Homo sapiens: one gene and its partner. The protein of the gene in region 2 purifies or fractionates together with the protein of the main gene of each other region. This does not show direct contact. Each region holds a gene or a part of one and is shown on either strand. Other genes may lie near its edges. The genes, in order: TKT and ATG2B.

Region 1 (10,216 bases), on a different chromosome or scaffold from region 2:
TGGAGTGATCAAATGTGTTCCCCAAATAAGAATTGGGCCAAAAAATTCATCAAGAATCTAATAGCAGACAGATTCCAAACCCAGTGCGCTGACCCCAGAACAGCTTTCAGTAGGAAATGAGCAGATCAGGAATGAAAGAGACAATAAAGGAACTGAGCTCTGGATTACTTAAGAGGAGGAGGAAAACCTGTTCAGAGGCAAACAAAAGGAAGTAAAATAATGTGAAAAAGAAAAGGATTTAAAAAACCCAAACTGGAAACAGGAATGTTGCAAGCTTTCTACTACTCCAGCTGAGGCCGCAGTTGTGGGGTGGAGCCTGGGCAGACCCCAGCTGCCAAGGCAGACCTTTCCCTGGAAGGCTCCTCGGTGTTGTGGCCCCTGGGAATTGCCCCTTACTCTCTGCCCCCTGTCCCCAGTTGGCATGCCATCATCGTGGATGGACACAGCGTGGAGGAGCTGTGCAAGGCCTTTGGCCAGGCCAAGCACCAGCCAACAGCCATCATTGCCAAGACCTTCAAGGGCCGAGGGATCACGGGTCAGTATGCACAAGCCGCCCTCCCCACCTTCACCCCTCGCCCAGACACTGTGGCTACGTAGCTCTGACCCGCACATCCAGGGAAACAGCCCTTGCTGCTCACTGAGCTCACCAGGCTCCAGGGAAGGGGAGCGGGAGATGCTGTGACTCAGTGACCCCTGTGGCTGAGCCAGGATTTAAACTCAGATCCGTCTGGCCTCTGCCGGTGGGGGCATGTACAGGCAGGAGGAGAGGAGGGACTTGGAGGGTCTGTGGGTGAGAGGAAGGTCGTGGAGTGAGGCAGCCCCCGTGCCCCACCCTGGCTGGTGCCTTTCAGAGCTGCAGCTGTGTGTGCTCTGCCAGCTCCGGCCACCTGCTCCAGCTGAAGGGCCGACACAGAGCCAGGCAGGGCCCGGAGAGAACTGTTCCCTCCAGGAGGTGAGTGGGGTACTCCTCAAGCAATGGCAGATGCTGAGCAAGGCCTGTGTGGGCCAAGAGCCTTGGGGGGTTTGGAACCTGGGTTCTGCCCCAGGCCGGAGAATGAGGCAGGCGTAAGTCACTCCCTGGCACCCAGGTGTGGGCTTCAGATTCCTAGGCCTGGGATGGCCTCACCCATTTTAAAGATGGGAAAATGAGACTACAAGTGGTCAGGGACTTGCCCGGGGACAGAGGAAGTCTATGGCACGAGGGGGGCTGATCCCAGGGCCTGGGTCGGCTTCCCTGCCAAATGCCCCTGGCTGCCCACCTGCCTGCTCTCAGGGGTTGTGGCTTGTTCTGCCCATGTAGACTCAGGTATATGAGGATGTTCTGAGTGGGGGTTTGGCAGTGCTGGGAGGTGTCTGGGAGGGGGTGGATGTCGAGGAAAGGGCTCTGGGATATTGTCATGGCTTTGGTGCTGCTGCCTGGCACTGCCCTCTGGTGTTAAAAATGGGCAGGATCTGGACCACTTGCAGCTTCTTGGGGGCTCCTGCTAGTCTTTCGGGCTGCTGGGTGCTACCTGGGAGTTCAGTCTGTTCTTGGCTCTGGCCAGACTCTAGTGACTACTGAGGTGACCTCCAGGGAGAGGGATATTCAGCCTTCCTGGCCGCACACAACAAGGTGCCATGGGGTGGGCATGCCTAGGTGCTTATAGACTCCTCTGCTGCTCACAGATGCATTGGGTGACCCTGGAAGCCCTGTTCTGGGCCTTGGGTTCCCCTTCTGATGGCCAGGGTCCCTTCCAACCCAGTCGACAAACTGAGTATTTCTGCAGCAGACACCTCTACCTGTGTGTGACCCTGCAGGCGGGGTTGTGGGGAGGAAGAGAATGGACACATTGGTGAAGGGATGGGGCAGTGGGCCCAGAAACACACACCTGCCCACGTCTGGCCCCTCCTTTCCCACTCAGCTGTGAGCTCCCAAAGGACCAGGCAGTAGACAGTGAGTGGTGGGCACGTAGGAGTCCATCCTATTCACTGCGACCCTCCTTTCCTGGCCCCCGTGCCTGGCTGGGCTCTGCCTGTCTGGGATGATGCCATTCCTCCCTTGCCCTCGGCAGGTAGAGGGCCAGTCTCCTGGAGCAGCCTCCTGGCCCTCTGGGAGCTTCTGTCTTACCCATTCCTCTGTCCTCCCGTGTTGGGTCTGCAGGGGTAGAAGATAAGGAGTCTTGGCATGGGAAGCCCCTCCCCAAAAACATGGCTGAGCAGATCATCCAGGAGATCTACAGCCAGATCCAGAGCAAAAAGAAGATCCTGGCAACCCCTCCACAGGAGGACGCACCCTCAGTGGACATTGCCAACATCCGCATGCCCAGCCTGCCCAGCTACAAAGTTGGGGACAAGGTACAAAGTGGGGCCTGTTTCTCTGAACCCATAGTTCTCAGGTTTCCCAAGTCTGTGGCCCAGATACACCCTCTGGAGGGCTGGGAAAGGGAGGAGAGCGATTCATTTAGGGCGAGGAGTGATCCCTGAGGTGTTGTTCCTGTCACTTCCCTCAGAATGACAGACATCTCTGGAGTTGACCTGCAGAGGCTCAGACCGGGCAAGGGAATTGCCCACTTAGCAAGCTTAGCAAGCTACTGACAGAACTGAGATCAAAGCCAAGGACTCACTCCCAAGTTCTTGCATCGCTGGTCCACGAGGGACCCTTGGCCTGAGCTCAGGACCCCCACCTGACCTGGGAAAGGCTAGGCAGAGCTGTCCCACTCCAGGTTTCTGTCCCAAGGGAACCCATCCATGCAGCCTGTGCCTGGCCTTGACTCCCAAGCCTTCTGTGTTCCCATGCAAAGTGGAATAGGTTCATGGACCTGGTGCAGCAGGCGGGAAGTTGGGGCTGGTGGGTGTCTTCTGTAGCTTATACCTTTCACAGCCAGAAGGGGCCGGGGCTCCAGGGGCTCCCAAGACATTGACCGTAGTCGTTGGCAACCTTTCAGCAGTTAAAAGCCTCTGCAGGACCTTGTGCTCCAGGGCTTCCATTTTTGGCCCCGTTTTAATCCTTCTCTGAAAGCAGGGCTCCAGGCTGCAGGTGTGCACTCACCCTCAGAGGGGTCCAGAGCCTTCCCACTCTCTTCCTCACAGATAGCCACCCGCAAGGCCTACGGGCAGGCACTGGCCAAGCTGGGCCATGCCAGTGACCGCATCATCGCCCTGGATGGGGACACCAAAAATTCCACCTTCTCGGAGATCTTCAAAAAGGAGCACCCGGACCGCTTCATCGAGTGCTACATTGCTGAGCAGAACATGGTAGGTGCTGGGGCCGGCAGGGACAGGTCCACCCAAGGCTGAGGGCTGTGGTCTGAGGGGTGCGGGGCAGCCATGTTGGCAGAGCCAGGTGCCTGCTGTAGGCCAGCCCAGGGAGACTATAAGAAAAGCCAGGACCCAGCGTTAACCCCTGACCTTGAACAGCCACAGTTTGGGAGGTTCTGCCCAGGTGCAAATGTCCTGGACAGGTGTGCACATGGGGGAGCCGAATGGGACTGCAGGTGCTCTCAGGAGGAGCTGCGTACAGGCCAGGCCTGGTGGTGAATGGGGTCTCTTCCAGGTGGAGGACAGGCCTGGCCAGTAGGTGGGGCCGTGATGGGTTTAGCAGCCCGAGTCTGTAGAGCACCTGTAATGCACACGGCTCTGGGCCCTGCCACCCTGAGGGATGCAGAGATGAGGGAACTCTGGGCCCCTGACATGTACCCATTTGGGGAAGCAGACCCTTGTCAGGAACTGAGGTTGTGAAGTAAGGAACAATGTTTTGTCCATGTTTTCAAAATATCCCCTCCTGGTGGTCCAGGAGCCCAGCCTGGCTTGCAGGCCCCTAGGGACAGGGAGCTTCCTCTCTCTGGAGGGCACTCAGATCTCCAGAGTTCTTCCAACTGGACCTGAAATTCTCTCTGTGGTTTCCAGAGACTGCTCTGCAGGGCGTGGGGCTGGGGAGGTCCCAGGTACTAGGGAAAGAGGCCTTGTGTTGGCTGGCAGATTTTGGAGCCTTGAAGGGCAGCTGGTTTGGAACTGATGACTGTACTCAGTGCTGCTTCTGGATGAGTGATTTGGGGCCTGGAGCCTCAGCAGGCATGAGGCTGCTGCCCTCGGACCCCAGGGAGGGGTTGGGAGGACCGGTCTCTGCAGAAGAAGGTGGTGGGGGACATATTCAGAAGCCCAGAAAGGATGGACAATCTATATACAAATTGTGGCTTTCTCCACAAAAGGGGTCCTAGGCTCCCCGACCACCCTCTGCCTGCCCCTTTGGGCTGACCCTGTCCCACCTGCCCCCAGGTGAGCATCGCGGTGGGCTGTGCCACCCGCAACAGGACGGTGCCCTTCTGCAGCACTTTTGCAGCCTTCTTCACGCGGGCCTTTGACCAGATTCGCATGGCCGCCATCTCCGAGAGCAACATCAACCTCTGCGGCTCCCACTGCGGCGTTTCCATCGGTGAGTTTAGCCAGGGTGTTTACACCTGGAGCTCCCTTGACTTTTGCACCAGGAGGTATGGGAGGGGGATGGGCCAGGATTCCAGCCCATGGATGGGGGGGTAGGGGTCTTATTTCTGCATATCCTTTCCCCCACACCCCAGGGGAAGACGGGCCCTCCCAGATGGCCCTAGAAGATCTGGCTATGTTTCGGTCAGTCCCCACATCAACTGTCTTTTACCCAAGTGATGGCGTTGCTACAGAGAAGGCAGTGGAACTAGCCGCCAATACAAAGGTAGGTTGCATGGCTGTTCTTTCTCCTGCTGGCAGCCATCACTTCCCAAGGGAAACAGAAGAGGAGGCCAGAGCTGGTCACTTGCTGCCCCAGGGGGTGTTTCCTGACCTTGCCCCTGGTGTTCGTGTAGCTTGTGGAAGTTAGACAAGAAAAAACGAAATACACACCCCACTTACTGCCACGTGGCAGACATTGTCAACTGATTGCCAGTCTGTCTCTGCTGAGAATCCTGGCAGCCCTGGCCGGTCCAGCGGTTGACACCTCTCCACCCTCCTGAGTTGGGTTCTCCAAGACAGGCAAGGATGAGCTGAGCCCTGTGGTCCAGGCCCGGAGCTGCATGCCACAGACCCAGTGCGCGTGGTTCCTGCCCCTCTGCCTGGTGCAGTCTGTGGGAGTAGCCCACCTGCAGCCAGTCTACCTGGTGGAAAGTTGCCTTCGGTCTGAGGCTGCAAGGTGGTGGGCAGTTCTCAGAGTGTTCAAGTGGGGTGCGGGCGGCAGAGGGCAAGCAAGGCCCTTTTCCCTGCTGGAGTAGCCAGGATGCAGTAACTAACGCTCCCATGGGAAGGGATGGCCTCTCTAGAAAGACCTCGTCTCTGAGGTTGGGTGTGCCACATCCTGTATCCTCAGTTTATCTGTTTCGGTCTCAGGGTATCTGCTTCATCCGGACCAGCCGCCCAGAAAATGCCATCATCTATAACAACAATGAGGACTTCCAGGTCGGACAAGCCAAGGTCAGTGCCTCGCATGCCCCAGGAGCCCACAGAGCTGCCTGGACCCTCCCTGCTGTGACTCCCAGCAGTCAGGGCACACCCTGCCCCAGGGCCCTGAGCCTTACTCACCCTCTGTGTCACCCCCAGGTGGTCCTGAAGAGCAAGGATGACCAGGTGACCGTTATCGGGGCTGGGGTGACCCTGCACGAGGCCTTGGCCGCTGCCGAACTGCTGAAGAAAGGTGAGGAGAAGGGGCCTCCAAAGTCATCAACTGAGCGGCCACTGCATGCTAGGTCTTGGGGTTCTTTCTTTCGTTCTTTCTGTTCTTTCTTGAAGAGCTCACAGCTAGAGAGAAAGCATTTCATTTCATTAAATAATGATAGCAATTATAGCCATCCTTTGAGCACTTGTTCTGTCTGGCATGTTGCTAAGTCCTGGGGCTGCAGTGCCCACAGTCCCTACCCTATGACTCTAAAGTCGAGACCCCCCCAGCATGGTGGCCAGATCAGTGGCCTGGAGCCTGCCAGCTGGGCTGGAATCACTCAGCCAGGCACTAGTTAAGGAAGTAAGTTATTCACTGTCACCATGCCTGTTTTCCTATCTGTAAAATGGAGATACTAGCCCCTTGCCCTCAGAGCTCTCCTGAGGGTTACATGCATGTGACTTGGTATTCTATTATTATTACTGCGAGCTCACAGTGTTGGCTAGTGGTTTGTAGGGGAGACAGGCATTGGCCTCTCCTGCAATAGAATCACACAGCAGATGTCATGTTTTAGCACGAAAGAGGGGGCAGGTGTGGCATCTTCCAGAAAGTGGCTTCAGAGTGGGTAGGAATTGATTAGCAGAGAGGAGAGTGAAGGGAGGCCGGAGGAGGGTCAGGCAGGAGCAAGATGGGGCTGGAGGAGCCAGAGGAGTCCATCCCCAGGCAGGGGGAGACCCAGGGGGGTGAGCTTTAAGCAGGGCCTGGCAAGCGTGGGTTTGTCCTTCTGAGAAGGTGCCTCTGCTGCTGGGGCCGCACGTGGGCCTCTGATCACTCTGCGGGCTGCAGCTCCCCAACGTCACCACATCAAGCCTCACCTTCCATCAGGCCAGACACCTGGGGTGTTTTCTCTCGCATTCCCTTTGTCTTCAAGGTTGTGGGAGGATGAGGGAAGGCGCTCAGGGCCTGCACGCTCCGCTCTGGGTTCTTGGATACTGCGGGCAACACAGCTGGACCAGATGCCCCAGTGCAAGGGGTTGGCAAGCATGAGCTCAGCCATGGGAACGAGGTGGCAAGTGGTTCTCCCTGGGACAGGGACAGGCCCGCAGGCTGAGCTCTTAGCTACACGCAGCCCTCAGGATGTCCCACCAGGCCCCCACCAGGGCAGATAGTGGTGCCCAGCCCTCCCCTCAGCCACGCCGTGTGCTCTCCCTCACAGAAAAGATCAACATCCGCGTGCTGGACCCCTTCACCATCAAGCCCCTGGACAGAAAACTCATTCTCGACAGCGCTCGTGCCACCAAGGGCAGGATCCTCACCGTGGAGGACCATTATTATGAAGGTAAGGAGGCCTGGGGCAGGCAGGCTGGGCAAGGGACAGGGCCAGAGAGCCGAGCGTTGGACGTGCCTCTTCTATCTGAGCCCCAGGAGGGCAGCTGTGGCCCAGAACACCCAGAGCTGTCCCTCAGAGCAGCTGGGACGTGGTCTCTTAAAAGGCCTCAGGCTTGGCCTGGGGACCTAGCTAACTCACAGCTGCTGATGAGCTCTGTGGAGCTCCTGCTGCCCAGGAAGCTGGTGAGGATTCCAACCTCGCTGCTAAATGGTGGATGGTGGCGTCCCTGAGGTAGTGTAGGGTGGAAGCTATGGTGCAGCTTGGGAAGCAATGCAGAATTTCTGGTATTTGTGAGTCCTTCACACAGCAGGCTCCCTAAGTACACACCAGCCTCTCTAAGTAGGAGGCCCCAGTGGGAGAGATGGGCTTTGACTCTGGGGTCAAATGTAGATAATTGGACTATGGACAGTGGCTGGCTGGTCACCAACAATGGTGTTTGAAACAAACATTTAGAGGCCATATTTGGGCTTATAAAAATAGTTCTGGGCCGTGCATGGTGGCTCACACCTGCAATCCCAGCACTTTGGGAGGCTGAGGACAGCGGATTTCTTGAGCTCAGGAGTTGGGAGACCAGCCTGGGCAACATGGTGATACCTGTCTGTCTCTTTAAAATAAAAAAAATCAATGAGTTATGTGATGGGCTCATGGCTACAGGTGGAGAAAGGCAGTGCATATGCAGCCTCCTCCATCCTTGACTAAGGCTGACAGAGGGCTGGGCCCACCACTGCTCACCCTGAGGCCTCGTCTTCTGACTCCCCTCCTTTCATTTCTAGGTGGCATTGGTGAGGCTGTGTCCAGTGCAGTAGTGGGCGAGCCTGGCATCACTGTCACCCACCTGGCAGTTAACCGGGTACCAAGAAGTGGGAAGCCGGCTGAGCTGCTGAAGATGTTTGGTATCGACAGGGATGCCATTGCACAAGCTGTGAGGGGCCTCATCACCAAGGCCTAGGGCGGGTATGAAGTGTGGGGCGGGGGTCTATACATTCCTGAGATTCTGGGAAAGGTGCTCAAAGATGTACTGAGAGGAGGGGTAAATATATGTTTTGAGAAAAATGAATTGGCCCTGAAATGTTTTCTTTTTTGATGTGTTTGCAGCCAGTGCAGGTTCTGGGGAAGAAGCGTGGAGGGTGCGCTAGGGAGGCTGGTGTCCTTGGTCCTGGGCCAGGACCTGGGTGTCCCAAGTCCCCTTGGAATCACCTGCAACTGCCCTCAACCTCCAGAACTATCGCTGCCTCCCATTCATCACCAGGTGACATTTGACTGCAACCTGCCTTCTAGCTGAGAGGCTGAGACCTACATCCCTCATTGTGACCTCAGTCCACCTGGCCCTGAGCGGGCTGGGGAACTGCCTCAGTCTGGAAGCTGACCAGGCACTCTCAGGGCCGCCCCACCTCCCCCAAGTCCCCACAGCCTTGCAGTCAGGTCTCCTGGGATAGGGAGGTTCACTTGCTTGTTGTCCCTCGTCCTTGTCATATCCTTTTAACTAGGCATCTCAGAGAAGCAGAGACAGGGCAGCCTTCGTCCTGGGGGAAAAGGGACCCTCAGGATGGCATGAGAGGTCCTCAATCCCAAGTGTGGAACTGTCCCCCTCAACTTGTTAAAATGCAGATTTCTGGGTCTTGCCAATGGGGCCTGGGACTCCATGTGACAACTGGCCCAGGAGCTTCTGATGTCACACAGAATTCTGCAGTCCCAAGCTCCAGCCCCGACCTGCTCTGCTGTTCCTAGGTGACTGCCCTCACACTGCTGACCACAGTGGATTTCTCCCCCTGCTGCTCGGGCTCAGCTGGGGTCAGCCCTGCTTATAAGGTCAACTGTGCAAAACCTTATACTGGCCAAGAACAAACTAGTGCTGGGGGAGGAGGGCTGGGTGCCCCGGCCACTGGTGGAGTCCCCAGGAAATCCTCAGAGCTGTTGCGAGGATGAGACACATTTGTGGACACGTCCACCTGTCCTCCTGACCGTCTGGAGAGAATAAACCTGTCAAAGCCAAGGTCAGGCAATTGCCCCCCACTTAGCTACCCAGCCAGGTCTAGCAGTGCCAGAGGCTGTGCCTGTGTTTGCCTCAACACCAATTCCAGAGGGACCAGGCATGGGGTGATGTGGTTTGGTCCCAGGGGGGTGCCCTGGGCTGATGCCTGTTCACCAGTGTGTTGAGGGCAGACCTGGGATTGGAACCTGGGTCTCTGTGAGTCTAGAGATCCCACCTTCTGTACCCTACTGCCCCTAGGGCCCTCAAAAGAGGAATCATGCAGTAGGCTCCCAGGAGGGCCCTGGTCCCATAGGATGATGGGAACAGCCTGGGGCTCAGGTCCTGTGCGTCTCCAGAGCCCACAGGCCCCTGCAGAGAATCTAGAGGCAAATACTGGGACAAGGACACCTGAGCCATAGGCACAGGCCCAGCCAGCAGCCTGGTGAGCCCATCTACACTGGCTAGCCATGCCCCAAGGACCTGGGAGGCCTGGCTAACCCAAAGTAGAGGGACAGGAGGGGCAGCTGCCCTCACCTCCAGCCTGCCTGGCCTCTCCCAGGCCCACACAGCTTGTGAAGAAGAAGACGAGAGCCTGGGCAGCAGGCGCCGGGGCCTGGGCAGGATGAGGGAGGAGAGTCAAGAACCCTGACCCAGTCACCCAGACCCAGTCCGGGGACATCAAGGCTACAGGAAGCTGGGACATTCAGGAATCCCAGAGCTGAAAAACTCTGCCTCCTTTTTGGCGAGAAGACTTAGAGTATAATGTGCTTAGTGTAGGGCGTGCTTGGTGCGGAGTGTGCTGGAGGCCATCACTGGGTCCTCATGGGAGCCTGACGAACTTGTCATTTCTCCCTCAGCCCCTGCTCAGGAAATACGGGAAGCCAAGACAGTGCCTGAGGCCTGACTGGAGGCTGGTGTGGCCTGACCTGTCAGCTAGCAAGGCCTGGCGGTGCCTCATGGCATAGACAGCTGAGCAGGAGGGCAGCATGGCCCCCCAGCAGCCTAGGACAAACTTTCCTGGCACCAGGGAAAGCCCCTCCCACCCCTGCTGGTAAAGGGGATGCTGAGGCTACAATCCACACAGCCAGGAGCCGGGATGCAGCTGCAAGGAGGGCGTGCTGGTGACCCCTCACGTCCCTACCCACTTGGGCAAAGGCTGTGGCAGCTGAGCCTGATAGGGGCGGGCAGGGCTGGGGGCAAACTCCCCAGACCAAAACCACCCCCACCACCCTCTGCTCAGTACATGGGGCAGTCCTCT
Region 2 (10,216 bases):
AATAATAAAGGGCTGGTGCTGTTTCTGTTTTATAACCACAAAACCTAAAGATCACTGAGTTAATGCAGCCTATGACTACAAAAACTAATGAGCTTTTTACTCCAGAGTAATCCCTTTCCTAAGCTTCTACAGAACATCTCTAGCACAGACTTTTCATTCTCCTTTGATTACCACATCCACCCATTGTTATAAGGAGGCATGGAACCCTCAAAGAGAATAGCTGTGCTGCAACTGCAACTCTTATTCCCTAGGTAGTGGTGTTATTTGGTTTGTAAATGATCACAGGCTTTTTTCCTAATTGATACATATCCTAATATAAATTGTGCTTCTGAATTATTTAACCGAAGTAGATCCAGTCCTTATGAAACTTGTGCTCTAAACTCATGCTTATTACCAGGTGTGTATGAGCAACATCTGTCCTAAGAATCTAATCGGTCTAATAGACAGTGGAGAGGAGGAGTAAAGCAAGGCAGGCAGAAAAATAGCACAACAAGGTTTGAGGGTGACACATCTCACACATTCATGTGAACACCCAATCATCACGCTTATGAACCACAAAAGAATCAAGGATGGACATGTTTAGCTTATATTTAATAGACAAAATGTTGGTTTAAAAGAATATTTTATTTTTAAAAGGAAAATCCTATTAAACCTATGCATTTGCTTACTCACCGTGGCCAGTCAAAGTCATCTGACGATGTTGTATCTCCATCTACTCCACTAGACACATGGAAAAACTTAATAGATGGATCTCCTTTCTCTTCCTGGAACGATCCTAAAAAAAAAGACTGATTTACTGAAATGTGCTTCTTCTCAAGTACTAAAAGAAGAGATGGAGGAGCAAAGATCCTCTCAATCAGGAACATAATGCAACCTTAAGTTCTACAGCATTTTTCAGTTGTTCTGGTTTCATGTGCACGTGTGGTAGACAGAATGAGCCAATAAATTAAAGATTCTGTTTTGTGTTCAAACTCAAATTCTTAAGTACCAAGGTACACTGCATAAAGTACATAATGACATAGTAAATAGAGCAAGCACTTACCACTTACTAAGTGCTATTAGTGATTATTTCTTCATAAAGTCTATATAATCTACCACTAGAAAAATAACTACATTTCTTAAATATGTATTTTGTACCAAACACTGTAAGAAACACCTCTGTTCAAAATAATTCTACACGGGCTGGGCGCGGTGACTCACACCTGTAATCCCAGCATTTGGGAGGCTGAGGCAGGCGGATCACCTGAGGTCAGGAGTTAAGAGACCAGCCTCTCCAACATGGAAAAAACCCGTCTCTACTAAAAAATACAAAAATTAGCTGGGTGTGGTGACATCCAACTGAGGCACGAGAATCGCTTGAAGCCAGGAGATGAAGATTGCAGTGAGCCAAGATCATGCCACTGCACTCCAGCCTGGGCAACAAAGCAAGACTCTGTCTGAAAAACAAAAACAACAACAACAAAAATTCTATACGTGTTTTTTCAATCCATTTTACAAATGAAAAATGGCTTTCCTCCAGAATAATGAGTTTCTCACCACTGGAGATAAGGGATGATCTCACAACACCTGAAGGCCCTTTCATGAAGTCATAATTGACAACAATCAATTTTAAATACCTCTTAAGATACGTAAAACCGAGAGAGAAAAGAAGGGGAACTTTTGCAAACTATTCTCATGAGGGGTGGGAGTGTGGTTGCGGAGAGAGGGTGTCGTGGCAGAGGCAGGTGGTCTAGGAACCACAGGATAAAAGGTTTTCCAGGTCTTCATAGACTTGGTTCACTTTAAAGTTTTTATAAATTCCCTTCATTAACTGACAAAAACAAAGTAATGCAGAAAAAATCAAAACGAGTTTTACAAATAAAAGTCACTAGCGATTAGTTAGTGTAATGGTTGAAAGCTCAAGCTCCACTGTCAGACTTGGGTTCAAATCTTGATTCTGCCATTGACTACAACATGATCTTGGTAGATACTTCCTTCTAGGTCCACAGATGGTCTCATCTATTAAATTATAAAAATAACTGGAAAAATAAACATATGGTGATTATGATGACTAAAAAAACAAGAAAATGTGTATCAAGTGCTTAGCATAATATTTAACATACAGTGGCACTTAACAAGTTCTATTATCAGTCCTACAATAAATAAACGAGAGGTGGTAATAAAAATGTAGGCTAAAGTACTACACTCTCCTGCAGTAAACAGGAATTTTAACAAAGTGAATGAATCATCATCCTTAGTTTTTAAAAAATTACCTATATCACATATTTGCATACAATACTAGAAAGACATTGTTGCTGTTGATTTTAACATAATGTTCTTTAATTGTACTATATTGCAGGGCTGTCAGATACTTTTGTGATGTTAAGTTTCAGTAGCAGTTGTTTGTTATCTAGGATGGTTCTTTTACAGGCACATTCAATCTTACCAATTAGTTCTCTAAAGGTAAGTTCCAATTTAATTTGTTCTGGGGTTGATCCTCCTATAAATTCAGTCTTAAATTCTAGATCTGTGAAGGCTAAATAAAGGATCTCCTTCTGAAGTGACTTCTTAAACCATGGTCCTCTTTCTTGATCAGATCGAAGATCAGGTATTGGGAAGCGAACAGAAAGGTTTAATGCTGGTGTGGCAACTTGTACTGATATCCGACAATTTGCAGGACTATGTGAATCATCTAGAAACACTTCAGTGAAAGCCTTGTGCTAAAACACAAAACATCAAAAATATGCCAAAATATTAAAGTAAATGAACATAAATTACACAGTATTCAACATTACAATATGTATAATCACTATCTCCCCATTTGGTATAATGCATTAAAAGTCAATTCAAATTAACCACTACCATATTAATTTAGTGTAAAAAAATTTTATAATGCAACAACTATTAGCAAAAGTGAAAACTATTGGCAAAAGTTAAACTCTGAAATAAAAAATTAAATTAAAAACTGAGCCAAAGTGAAGACAAAGGCACTATATATTAATATTTATCTTACTATAAATTTATAAAGAATACGGTGTAAATTAGCCTACCAACAAATTCAATACGGTTAAAAATCACTGTAGTGTCCAACATTCAGTTTGAAAGACTTTTCTACCAATATATGATTTTAAATACTCAATGTGAAATCAGATGAATTATGCCAAATACAATCGCTGACTCAACTTTGTACTTCTAAGATAAAACCCAGAGGCTGGCACATCACAGGTTCTAAATAAATATTCACTAAATGACGCACTCTGAGCTCCTATCCAATCCAAGGGTATGATCTCATCAAATGGTTCTATGAGACCAAGATATATGCACCATTTTACCCAAAGCCATCTTACAATAAAAGGGTCAAAGAACATCCCATTCAAATAGAAATCTATTTCTATTTTTTCTCTAAAATATATTGAAACTAAAAAAGCTTTATTCCACTCTACGTTGTAACACTCCTCAGTTTCTTCAATCAATTTCTAACCTCCATGATTTGAAAACTCCCTGCATATGCTAGACTTACAATTTTTGTGTTTGTTTTTTTCGAAACAGGTCTTGCTGTATCACCCAGGCTGGTCTCAAACTCCTGGGCTCAAGCAATCCTCCTGCTTCAGCCTCCTGAGTTGCTGGGACTATGGGTGCAAGCCACCACACCCATCCAGACTTGGATTTTTAACAAATCTATTCTAACTCTCCCCATTTGATTTGCTAATATTTAACCACCACTCTCAGGCAAAAATAACCCAACAGATTAAACCATCATCCAATTGCATATATAGTTACAGCTAATATACAGACTACCCCACAGAAACTAAAATAACTAGCAATTGATAACAATAACAAAGAATGCCCAGCCTGGGAAACATAGGGAGACAAAATATAAAAACTTAACCGGGTGTGGTGGCACATGCATGTAGCCCCAACTATTTGGGGGGCTGAGGTAGAAGGATCGCTTAAGCCAAGGGGGTCAAGACTGAAGTGAGCTGATACCGTATGACAGCACTGCGGTCTGGGCAACAGATGTCTGTCTCAATAATAATAATAATAATAATAATAATAATAATAAACAATGCTAATTTGATGTGAATACTCAATACTAAGAGAAAAGCAAAGAAGTAGAAAAATAAAATATCTTTTTCCTTTTCTTTTTAACTAAGGTTGTCTCCATCTGATCCTGGTCCTCTGGCCCCAAAATTCCTAACAGACTTCTTGCAAACTTGACTGATTTAATTTGCTTAGAAAAGACCCCAGGCACCAGATGCAAGTAAAAGTGATATAATGTGATGTTCAATAGATTATTTTCAAAAGTATATCCCATATTGTTTGGGCTTCATGTTTTAGGTAGTTCAAGTAACTTATCAAATGTATAAATAGATAAAATTTTATAAAGTCGTTATAATCACAGCTTATAAAAACTCTGATAGACATGAAAAGTAAAGGAAACCTAATTCCACTGTAATATAAACAATGCTACTGACTGGCATATTTCTCGCCATTCTTTTTCTATACATCAATTTTATTTACACAGGTGTGACAAGTTTATGTAAAGCAATATATTCTACTTTTTCATTTAATCCTTGATGAGCCTTCTTCATGTTGTTATACCATCTTCATAACCATCATTTTCTTTTTCTTTTTCTTGAGACAGAGTCTCGCTCTGTCACCCAAGCTGAAGTGCAGTGATGCGATCTAACTGCAACCTCCGCCTCCTGGGTTCAAGCTATTCTCATGCCTCAGCCTCCTGAGTAGCTGAGATTACAGGTGTGTGCCACCATGCCCAGTTAATTTTTGTATTTTTAGTAGAGACAGAGTTTCGCCATGTTGGCCAGGCTTGTCTCGAACTGGCCTCAAGTGATCCTCCCACCTCAGCCTCCTAAAGTGTTGGGATTACAGGTGTGAGCCGCCACGCCTGGCCATAACCATCATTTTAAATGACCACATAACATTTCATTCAGTGTGTCTCAAAAACTTATTTAGCTAGTCTACTATCAAGACATAAAAGATGTCTCCTTTTTTTATTATTACAAATAATGCTATTTTAATTATACTGTTTAATCTATTAAAAATACTTAAGTTCAGAAATTATCTCAATAACCCTATTAGCTAACCATAATTATGATTAGTATTTGCAGCTTTTGAATACTTACCAGACTAATATGTTTATTATATGAAGTATACATGTGGGATGCCATCATCTCTACTGTGGCAAGTTTCTGTGGTTGAAGCAAGGAATTTAACCTGTCCACAATACTGATATCCAGCTCACAACACACTGGATTTAATTTAATTTGCAATTCTGCCTTGTGAGGAACTGAACTAAGTCTTGCTTGATTACCCTTTTAAAAAAAAAAAAGAAAAGGCATTAATACAATCACTAAAAACTACTATATAATTGGGTTAAAACCTTATAATTGTGACAAAATATATATCAGATTAAAATTTACAGGTGGCAATTATAGAAAAAGATCTCTTACCTGGGGCCCTCTATTCTCAGAATGCTTATAATGAAGCTGAAGACACACAGGGGAATGGGAACCAGTTTCTTCTTTGGAATGGAACGTTAAAAGCTTAAAAGTAAAGATGAAGATAAATTAAATGTATTAATCACAAGAATTTACAGAGGTGCCCATACAATAATGAGAAAGGCTTTCTGAAGTCAGAAATCTGGTTTTAAGTTTCATTTTTGTCACTTACTAGCAATGTGAACCTTAGACAAGTTAGTTAACTCATGTGATATCTCATCTGTAAAATGTAGGCGAGGATTCAAATAAATTCATTTCCAAGAAAGTGTTTTTGAAATAAAACACTATAAAGGGTCAAAGTAACAGCAATGAACATAACTTTGACAGTTTTCTAAAGTTTCTTTAGGTCACACTTTTACATTAGGAAAAATATCAGAAAAATGGTGAATGAACACAAGACATTTAACTTGTCTTAAACAATGCTTAGCACACAGCAGGCATTCGATAATTATTTGTTCAATAATCAAATTCTTCTGAAATGAAGAGTGCTTTGAACATGAGTGAAATGAAGTCATTTCTCTCATAACCCACCTGTCACTCCTAAACAAGTCAACTCTAATTTAAAATTCTAACAGATCCTTATAACGATGTTGAGTGACATTCTTAAATATATTTCTATAGAACACAAGTGCAAAAAGAAAATGACAATATTCCTCCTATGGCTTTCTATACATTTTTAAAGAAAATCATTGCCTCATACAATCATTAAAAAGCAAGGTAGATTTAAAAAATAATCTTAAAGAAAAAGTATTCAATATTTACCTCTGTATAGTGAGGAGGAACAGAATGAAAATCAGTTGGAAATAGGCACTCCAAAAATTCCATTTGCCCAATGGACATATCAGTACTAAAATATCGGGAAGCTGATCTTTGTCTTTGTTCATAGGATACTTTAATGCCAGTACCTATAAATCTATTATAAAAAATGCACCATTTAAGATTATTAGTGTTAAAATGTAACAATTATCCACCTAGTCTGACAAGTTCAAGTTATCAATAATTAATACTCCTAAGGAAATTAACCAGAAAGATTGCTTCAAATTTCCCTTTCCTTAAGATAAAAAATCAGTTCTGTTGATGGGAAATTTTCCAGGATCTGTTTATTTCCCAACACTGCCCTTCGTCTTCCACATTTAAAAATTTACATTGCAAAGGCAAAATCTTTCAGATCTGTAAAATATATGAAATAGTCTCTTAAAATTATCTAAAAACATTATGCAATATTTCAAAAACTTTAGTCGGTGAAGCCCAAATGAGGTCTACCTATATTTTCTGCCGCTTTTGTTCTATTTTCCTACTGGCAGATGTTTGAAACTTTGTCAAAAATGGGAAAAAAAAAAAAAAAAGTCCAGGCACAGTGGCTCATGCCTGTAATCCCAGCACTTGAGGAGGACAAGGTGGGCGGATCACCTGAGGTCAGGACTTCGAGACCAGCCTGGCCAGTATGGTGAAACCCCATCTCTCTTAAAAATACAAGAAAAAAAAAGGGGGGTGGAAGAAAACAAAATGTTTTTACAGTTTGAGTATAAATACTATAATCCTAACCTGTAGAGTTTTTCTTGTATTAGGTGTAAAACTACTTTTCATATCAATTTTCATACTTTAAAAAAGTTAAAAAGATTAAATAAACGCCCAAAGTATTTTCTAAAAATACTAATATATGATATGTTTAAACCACCGTATAAGATGTCATTCAACAATTTATAGATCACTTTCACATTAAAATTGTAAAACAGAGTTTGCATGTTAACAATACTAAAGGCTGGGCGTGGTGGCTCACGCCTGTAATCCCAGCACTTTGGGAGACCGAGGCAGGTGGATCACTGGAGGGCAGGAGTTCGAGACCAGCCTGGCCAACATGGTGAAACCCCATCTCTACTAAAGATACAAAAACTAGCTGGGCATGGTGGCACATGCCTGTAATCTCAGCTACTCAGGAGGCTGAGGCTGCAGAATAGCTTGAACCTGAGAGGCAGAGGTTGCAGTGAGCCAAGATTGCGCCACTGCACTCCAGCCTGGACGATGGAGTGAGACTCTGTCTCAAAACAAAAAACAAAACAAAACAAAAAAACCAACTATATTACAAATTCAATTATCTCCTCATCTGTTAAGACTCAACCCATGAAAGGATCACTCACTGGCTATTTGGATAGCTTTGATTTTTCTTAAGCAGAAGTTGAAACGTAGCATCCAAGTTTCAGGATCAGCCTTGGTAATGTTTCCCACCCCATGGCCAGTGGCATATGGATCAGTTCCAATAGTATTATTTTATTTTTCATCACCACTGTCATCTCTGCTAATGCCAGTGACAATAAGAACTGTTTTCACGACTGCAGTGGTGTCAATAGGGATGAAGGCAAAATGTGGTTAAAGAAACTTGACAAGAGCTGGGCAGGGAACTAAAGAGATCACTTTGAAAACTCCTATTATCTAGATCTGTTATTCTGCATGCCAAATAACCTGAATGAAAGATTCTAAACACCTTTGCAGCACTGCAAGAAAACTTCACTCATTCCATTCATTTACAAATAAAATGTGAATTAGAAAAACAAATGCAGATAGGCAGATACAAAAGTCCACATGTGGTTCTTTTTCAAGGATCATTAGCATATGTGGAAGTTTAAAGGATCATTAATACATATGTGAGAGTTTACCTAAGGTGATCGTGTGAGCAAGCTTCTGCAAACACTGCTCGGAAAGACTTAAAATCTTCTGTTGAAAATCTTGCTGGATCAATCTTTTCTATACAAGTAAAGAAAGCTACTGCCATAGGTGTCAATGGATTAAGGTTCTGTGACGTTTCAGGTGGAGATAAAGGATCAATGTGAAGCACAGAGATTGAAAAAGTTCCCACAGCTAGTCTAAAAATAAGTTCAGGCCTTGATTCATCCACTGAAACAGATCTAGATGGGAGAGCTAAAATACAAGTATTAAAATTATATACATAAAATTTGACACATAAAACTATTAAAATTATAAAACATTTACTCATTTATTAGCTTTAAAAAACAGATGATCATACAACAGTTTGAATGATATTAAACAATTAATTTAAGTAAAATCAACTGCTATCTTGCTGCATCTTACATCCAAGATTTTTGTACTAAAGTACAAGAGTACGTGACAACAGTAAATGTACAAACCAAGCTTTTATATTAATAAAAACATACTGGAAAACTCAAGATTAACCAAAAACTGCTCACCAAATTTTCCTTTAAGCCTTGGGTCTATATCAATTAAATTTTGCAGAAAAGAAACCTGAGGTTCTCTTCCAAGGAAAATGTAAATAGTGAAACAAAAATCACATGATTGACTGAGGGTCCTGAACTGCAATAATAATATGAAACTTACAGTGTACTTTTAACTAAAAATATTTAAGTATTTAAATACACAAAGAATACAATAAATGAGCAACTATTCTAAAACACTTCACAGTGAATTGTTTAACAATGGTTCATTTTGCTTTCTGAACTTTGTAAATGGCCAAGACCAGAAAAAAAAAAAAAAGAAAGAAAAGCACCAGTAGAATGGCATTTTAAAAATTCCAGCGGAAACTAACAACAAATGTCTTATTTTTACTTACATGTCTTCTGTAAAGGTGTTGGGTGAACTAGGTTGGATGGAAATGTTGACCCTCTTACTGGCTGTTCTTTATGATGATCAAGGAACTCTCCCCAAGTGGGCTGAAGCTATAAAAGATTTTTTTTAAGCACATGAATGAAGTGTAGAATTTTAGAAGCAACTTTTCAGTCTAGAAGAAAAATTAAGTAATACTTTACCACAGTAGCACTTAATGGAGATCCTGCTGGGGTATTTGTATATGTACTAGTTAATGATAACTCAAGGTCCATGTTTGGGGGGTCCCCAAGGGGTGGAAGAGAAGAGAGACTATGAGACATGTCCATATCAGCCATGGAGAAGAATACTTCTTCTTCTAGAGAGAATTAAACTATGTCACTTGTATTATAATCCCACCAATTCAAGTCTTTTAAGTAAGTTAATATACGTTAATACAATCCTCTTCCTTCAGATTATATGAGATACAGCGATGCCCCAAATTTTATGTTACTTACAGTGGTGTAATTTATGAGTCCAAAATATTAATGGCATAGTAAAAACTCAATATAAATTAATAAAAAATGAAGCTACCCTACTGATGAACATGTTTTCTTTTGTTTTAAATATATAAATGTAGTATTACCTGGTATATTTTTAATGTGATATGCCAGTTTAGGAATTAAAATCAGATATTAAAATAGTATAAATATATTGCAACCTCTAGTTTCATCTGGATACAGTTATTTCTTTTATTCAGAGCCAAAAACATTATTTGGAATTCCATTTACATTTCAGTTCCTTCTTTCGGAATTGTTTTACTCTCATGCAAATGAAGTTTATTATGGCCAAAATTTTTTGAGTAGGGTTTGATTTCTTATTTTGTCCAACATTCCATACTTAAATTGATCCATATTATTTATGTTATTAGCATTTATACATTGTGAAACACCTATAAATGTAAAGTAAGCTGGGTAGAGATCATTATTTACATATAACTGATGGAAAGATCAATAAAGGAAAGTTTCCTTATTAAACTTTAGTAGTTCAGTAGTTTCTTAATCTAGAAATCATTACATGAGCACATAATAATTTGACAAAATATATAACTACCTAATTTAACTTTCACATAAATTTACATTTTTATAAATTGGTTTTCCTTA

Evidence for each region.
Region 1: the proteins of ATG2B (region 2) and TKT purify together in Homo sapiens (affinity purification with mass spectrometry; 2 studies listed by BioGRID and IntAct, with this or other methods). This does not show direct contact.

What each region holds. Positions count from the first base shown.
Region 1 is NC_000003.12:53,223,475-53,233,690, reverse strand, and holds the end of TKT (transketolase), read left to right. Parts: intron 1-416; coding exon 417-535; intron 536-2,140; coding exon 2,141-2,334; intron 2,335-3,069; coding exon 3,070-3,234; intron 3,235-4,254; coding exon 4,255-4,411; intron 4,412-4,553; coding exon 4,554-4,684; intron 4,685-5,331; coding exon 5,332-5,415; intron 5,416-5,541; coding exon 5,542-5,635; intron 5,636-6,812; coding exon 6,813-6,935; intron 6,936-7,759; coding exon 7,760-7,935; 3' UTR 7,936-8,979; downstream 8,980-10,216. UniProt on the Homo sapiens protein: Catalyzes the transfer of a two-carbon ketol group from a ketose donor to an aldose acceptor, via a covalent intermediate with the cofactor thiamine pyrophosphate.
Region 2 is NC_000014.9:96,323,224-96,333,439, forward strand, and holds part of ATG2B (autophagy-related protein 2 homolog B), read right to left. Parts: intron 9,433-10,216; coding exon 9,278-9,432; intron 9,188-9,277; coding exon 9,082-9,187; intron 8,415-9,081; coding exon 8,153-8,414; intron 6,412-8,152; coding exon 6,261-6,411; intron 5,544-6,260; coding exon 5,451-5,543; intron 5,313-5,450; coding exon 5,124-5,312; intron 2,700-5,123; coding exon 2,426-2,699; intron 776-2,425; coding exon 673-775; intron 565-672; exon of another isoform or gene 468-564; intron 1-467. UniProt on the Homo sapiens protein: Lipid transfer protein required for both autophagosome formation and regulation of lipid droplet morphology and dispersion.